Regions from separate parts of the Homo sapiens genome. Here region 1 is linked to region 2. A link means that fine-mapping ties the variant in region 2 to the plasma level of a protein whose gene starts in the linked region. Region 2 holds a variant in brackets. A gene starts in the other region. All regions are shown on their forward strands.

What was found. A credible set is the group of variants that fine-mapping cannot tell apart. PIP is the posterior inclusion probability: the model's chance that the variant is causal. The UK Biobank Pharma Proteomics Project read protein levels with antibody pairs (Olink). The fine-mapping took linkage between variants from a reference panel, not from the people measured, so its PIPs are less certain.
Region 1: CCL14 starts here. The variant in region 2 is the best candidate, but not a certain one, in a credible set for the plasma level of the CCL14 protein (UK Biobank, PIP 0.52).

What each region holds. Positions count from the first base shown.
Region 1 is chr17:35,985,287-35,988,125 of GRCh38, forward strand. It overlaps CCL14 (C-C motif chemokine ligand 14), which reads right to left and starts at 1,443. Exons shown (of 3, transcript NM_032963.4): 1 at 1,285-1,443. The coding sequence starts at 1,363. CCL15-CCL14 (CCL15-CCL14 readthrough (NMD candidate)) reads right to left here. Exons shown (of 7, transcript NR_027922.3): 5 at 1,285-1,418.
Region 2 is chrX:70,500,151-70,503,059 of GRCh38, forward strand. It overlaps DLG3 (discs large MAGUK scaffold protein 3), which reads left to right. Exons shown (of 19, transcript NM_021120.4): 17 at 321-430; 18 at 748-839; 19 at 2,013-2,909. The coding sequence ends at 2,119. Among named protein-coding and RNA genes, the nearest start is that of DLG3-AS1, 46 kb to the left of the region's middle. The variant G/C (reference allele first, on the strand shown) is at 1,267.

The DNA.
Region 1 (2,839 bases), not on the chromosome of region 2:
AAAAGTTTTAAAAATCACTGGATTGGGTGATTTTTTCATCTATTTTCTGATTGAGAAGTTTCATGGCTTTTATAGGAGAAGCAAGGTGACAGCAGCCACCCCAAGCTTGAATTATAGAGGTAGCAGGAAGGACATTGTAGGCCAAGAGCCCTGTACAAACAGGCACATGTTGTGGTTATGGAGTGGAGAAATCAGGTGTGTGCATGTTATGTGACCCTGCTTCATAGAATCATGGATGTGCATCACAATGGCCTCAGAGGTCACTGAGGGTGGCCAGATGTCTGGGTGGAAGGGTCTCATCCTGTTTTCCAGCTCCATTCCAGGCAGCATCCTCACGATCCAAAGAACGGCATAAGGGGCCCCTGTTTCCTGAGACCCAGTCAGAGCTCCTATACTCTCCCACCTTGTTCCTCTGAGCTGACAAATGACATCGGAGAGGGCAAGTCAAACTGTGCACATACCCACCAACTTTAGCTGTATTTTAACAACCTTCGGTTTCCCCCCAGTTTCTGAAAAGGAGAGTAGGTAAAATGGAAGAGTGATAAATAGTTTTGGTTATCTCTAAAGGCAGCTTATTCTAAGAAATCAGCTGAGAAAAGGGGGCCTAGGATGGACCCCACACTGTCGTGTTTCCCCCCAGCCCATACCCAAGCAATGCTGCACTCACTGGGCACAGGTGACGCTGGAAGCAGGCTGGGCCCAAACCTCAGGAGGCCAATAGAAAAATGCCCTTGAGGGGCTCAAGACACTGCTCCTAATCTCCCTGAGGAAATATACCCCAAATGGGGTGGGCCACTCTTTTGCTTAGCGGCAAAGAGAGAGAAATTGAGGGAGTAGAGAGGCAGGCTGGTCTCACTCCATGTCCTTGAGGGCAAGGGGGGACTGGTCCTGGGGGGCAATGATAAGAGATCAAGGCCATGTGAGGCCTGGAGATTCAGGATCTGTTTATTTGGAGACTAGAGGGCATTTGGGGTAGTGGAATGAAGCCTGGAGTCTCCCAAGTCAAGTCTCATTGGTCAAGGCTGGAAGATCCCAACTTAAACTCTTAAGCAGAACCTACAGTCCTAAGTCTCATCTCCATCCTGCTCACCACACCATGGGGTGAAGTGCTGTGGTGCTCAGTAGATAATTCATTTATATAATGTTGCTATACACACAATTTCAAGAAGATACCAGCCCTCCTTTCTGAGTCCCTGCTCCTGGTCTTCCCCTGAGCCCCAACCTCACTCCTGCTTATTTCCCTGCAGGCTCTAGGTTGGAAGGAAGACAAGGCATTGCACTCACGTGAGGAGGATTCAGTCTTGGTCCCTAGGGCGATGGTGATGAGGAGGAAGAAGGGAATGGCAGCCACGGAGATCTTCATGCTGTGGGAAGCTGTTGTGGGAGGAGAGCTGGCCTGGTGGGAGCTTCAGAGGCTCCTGCGGTGAGGAATTGTTGAGAAATGATCATTGAGGCCAAATATTTTTTAAAATAAGGGAGCTGAGACTTGGAAGGGAAGTAGGAAAGCAGTGATGCCTCAGCAATTTCATATCCTGCACATGTGTTGTTGGTGGCCTGAAGGAAGCAGGGAGAGCCAAGGTTTAAGGGAGGAAATGGTCTTCCATCCCCAGTGGGAAGAAGTTCAACTCTTTTGATAGAAGCCTTTCCCTAGGCATGAACATGAGCACAGGGCTGGGGGCACTGTGTCACACTTAGCAAAAGATCTCAAGGCTGGATGTGTCCTGTATCCAATTCCATCTCAGGCCTTAGAACAGGCCACGTGGGGCCTGGACATTCAGGATCTGTTCATCTAGAGACTAGAGGGTGTTTGGGGTAATGGAATGAGGCCAGGACTCCTCCAAGTCAGGTCTCATTGGTCAAGGGAAATCCTAACTTAAACTCGAAGCAGAACCTGCAGTTCTCTGTCTCATCTCCATTCTGGTCACCACACCATGGAGTGAAGAAGTGCTGTGGTGCTCAGTAGATAATTCACTTATATAATGGTTGCTATACACACAAGCCACTGTCCCAGTTGCCTTATGAATATTAGCCTATTTAATCTTTAGAACAGCAGTTGAGGAAACAGGCTCAGAATCAAAGCCTAAGCTTTTGACAGTTGGTAAATGGAACTGGGGTTCAAATTCAGGTGGTTTGGCTTCCAAGTCTGTGTTCTCACCCATTATGCCATAAAGAAACATGGGACTCCCAACGGAGCTCTGTAAAAGCTTATGGGTTTTCTATAAAGCCTTTAGTCTTAGTCCTTTCTGAAATCAGATAGTGGATCTCTTTGGGACCTTCTCCTGGTTTCTCTGACTTTTGCTGCAAAGAAGCTTGGTGGGAACCCTAGAAAATGTCTAATTCAGGGATAGCTAGTAGGTTTCATTGATTAGTGGTGGACTGGAGCTCTGTGTTGGAAATGATTCTGAGGCCATATCCAGGCACATTGGGAAGATACGCTGTGACCAACGTGCAGTTTCTGTTGCAGTGCAGCTTGCATGCTATGTATCTGCCATTTGATTTGTCTAAACTGGCCATTTACTGAATGGAAGCTGGGAATCAGAAAGGACCAGTGACTTTCTCATGTGCACACAGTGATTTGGATGCAGGACAGATCTCATCTCCGCAGGCTCTCAGCTTAGTGCCCTCACCATGCTGTTCTTGGAGGTACATCCCCCATTCTGCTTGCTGATGTGGTTAGATGGTTATTTAATCTCCTCTCCTCATCTGAATCATCAGGATGGAGAACATCTATTATTTATCTTTGCCCATTCACGCAGAACCTAGTGTATACCAGGTGCTTTATGAATATACATTTTAAAAGAAGGATGAATAAACAAATTGAGCCAGGTCTACATATGTG
Region 2 (2,909 bases):
CTGACCAAAGCCATAGCACATCTGCATACTCCCAGCGCCTTGACGAAGCTATCTGTCTCCTTCATACAACTCACCCCAGAGCATTACCCAACAGGGAATAGGGGGCCCTGGACAGATGTGGCCTTTTCTGGGTAATAGGAGCAAAAAGTAGGGCCTGTCTACTTCAGAGATCGAATTTCTTAGGCCACTTTGGGTGGCCCTCGTGCCCCTCCCCTCACCCCCACCCCCGGCCAAGGTGGATGTTTAGAATGTCACTGGATTTCTGCTTGGGACTTGGTGAATAGGGAGTGGCTGGGCTGTTACAATCTCTGCTTTTTCAGGGCAAGCACTGCATCTTAGATGTTTCCGGCAATGCTATCAAGAGACTGCAGCAAGCACAACTTTACCCCATTGCCATTTTCATCAAGCCCAAGTCCATTGAAGCCCTTATGTAAGTGTTGAACTGAGAACTCAGACACACCAAGCTAAGATCGGGTCTGGAAGGGAAATGGAGAAGAAAGTGATTTGCTGGGCAGAAACTTGAAAGAAACTCTGTGCCCCAGCTCTGGTCACTGGGCGCTCCTGTTTTGAGGGCTTGTGCATATGTTCATGGTTGGACTTTTGAACGCAGGTTTGAGGAGTTAGCTACGGGCCACTGCTGCTCTGAGAGGGCAGCTTAGCAGATTTTTAGGGATCCTGGAATAATCCTTTATGGTTAATCAGAACATAAGATCTGGTTCAGAACTATTTTTCTTCTGTCTTTGGCAGGGAAATGAACCGAAGGCAGACATATGAACAAGCAAATAAGATCTATGACAAAGCCATGAAACTGGAGCAGGAATTTGGAGAGTACTTTACAGGTAAGACTCCTGCTGCCCTGCGGGGGGTTCTGGGGAACTAGCCAGGTACCTGTTTCTATAAGTGTCTCAAAGAGGTGTAGACAGAATGTAGAAACCTTGCACGGAGTTTCCAGTTGCTTTTAAGTTTTTGAGCACAAACCTTTCCAAAGCACACAAGTTCCCCGTGTCCAGCCATAGCAGTTCAGCCAGTTTATAGCATAAACCACTCACCAAATGCTTCCTTGAATTGTTGGTTTGTTCATTTTGTCTTGTCCTTACTAGATTGTAGGCTCCCTGTATTACTCTGTCTCCCTCCGTTTCAGCTCCACTCCCCCTCCCCCAGTACTTTGCTTTGCATGTTTAGGTGCTGAATAAACGTTTGTTGATGATGATGATTCCTCGGTGTGCTGTTCAAGTTGTCTGTTGGGGTGTCTGTCTGTCTGTCTGT[G/C]TGTGTGTGTGTGTGTGTGTGTGTGTAAGGTCAGTTCCTGAAACATTGGGAAGGTTTCTATGTAATACGTTCTTCACCTTTTGAAGTACAGTGACATATATATACATAAATATATGCAAGGCAGTGCCGAATCCATTCTAGCTGGTGGTGACACTAGGTTAACTGTGTAAAGAATTCATAAATGTCCTCACACACCTTGGGTCTTCAGAGCTCCCTTTACCATCAGCATCCATGTCCTTGTTTGCTGGGCTGACCTCTGACATACAGCAGATGTGATGGGCCCAGGAGCGCTGCCTCTTGCCAGAAATTGTGGCTTTCAGTTCTTTCTGTGGAGAACTGCGATTTTCCAAATCTTTTAGTAAGGCTGCTTTAGAATAACAAGCTGCTGGCCTTATGGCACCCAAGAACAACATGAACTGCAAGGTCTGGCACATAGTGGGTGCTCAATAAACATCTTTTGAATAAACACATTTTTCTGGTCATTACTACTTAGTCTCACTGTCTCAGTGAGTTGACTTCAAGCCCTGGACTTGGGGTACCTTGTTGGTTGCCCTTACTGCCCTGAACACACAGGCAGCCAGCCAGTGAACCCAAGCCCAAACCCATACTCCTGGGAACATGTCCTTCATGTGAGGGGTGAGGGGGTGGAGGGGGGACTTGTAGGATTGTTGGGAGAGGCAGGATTGCTGGGTTTGGGGGATGTGCTATGGACCACAGTAATAATTTTGTTTTCCTCTTCACTTTAGCCATTGTACAGGGTGACTCACTGGAAGAGATTTATAACAAAATCAAACAAATCATTGAGGACCAGTCTGGGCACTACATTTGGGTCCCATCCCCTGAAAAACTCTGAAGAATCCCCTCCAACCATTCTCTTGTGAACAGAAGAAATCAAGTCCCTCTTCCCTCCTCCCTCTTCATTCCTGTCCCCATGGGGAGAACAAATGCTACTGTTCTTGTCCCCTTTTTTAGATATGTCAAAAAAAATTAAGTTTTCTAGTCCTGTTCTTTTTTTTTTTTTAAGTTTTTGTTTGTTTCAGTTTATTTTTTGGGATGATGCCATCTCATTCATCATGTGACTGTGCCCATTCCTGCATGGACCTTTCCCAAGCGCTAGCACAGGTGCAAAATCCATCAGAGCCATTGTTTTCATAAAAACCAAGCAGAAGTGAAGAGAAAAGAGGAGGACTGATGGAAAGACAGACTCTGGACAGCTGCACGGCTTGTGAAGTGAGCTAAATGCACCACATGATGAGATGCTCCTGGGCATTTCTCCCTATCTGTACTGCTGTCTTGCAGCTCTGAACGGTGCAACGTAATGGCGACAGAAAGTATCTTATTTATATATAGATATATATATGTAATTTATATAAAATATATAGAAATTATTATATATATATATTATACACTCTCATATAATATATATATATTCACACACATTTGGGTTAGAAAATCTATGGAGACTTCATCAATGGTACTATGTTATTAGAGAAATGCTTTAATTTTCATATTCCAATCAGATGGCATCTTCTATCCCAGCTGGTTGGGAAGGGATTGAAGATGGTAGCAAGTGCTGCACTAAGGGCACTCGCATTTGGTCATTCTCTTGAGAGCTAGGAGGGGTCAGCCTGAGGCCGGAGAGG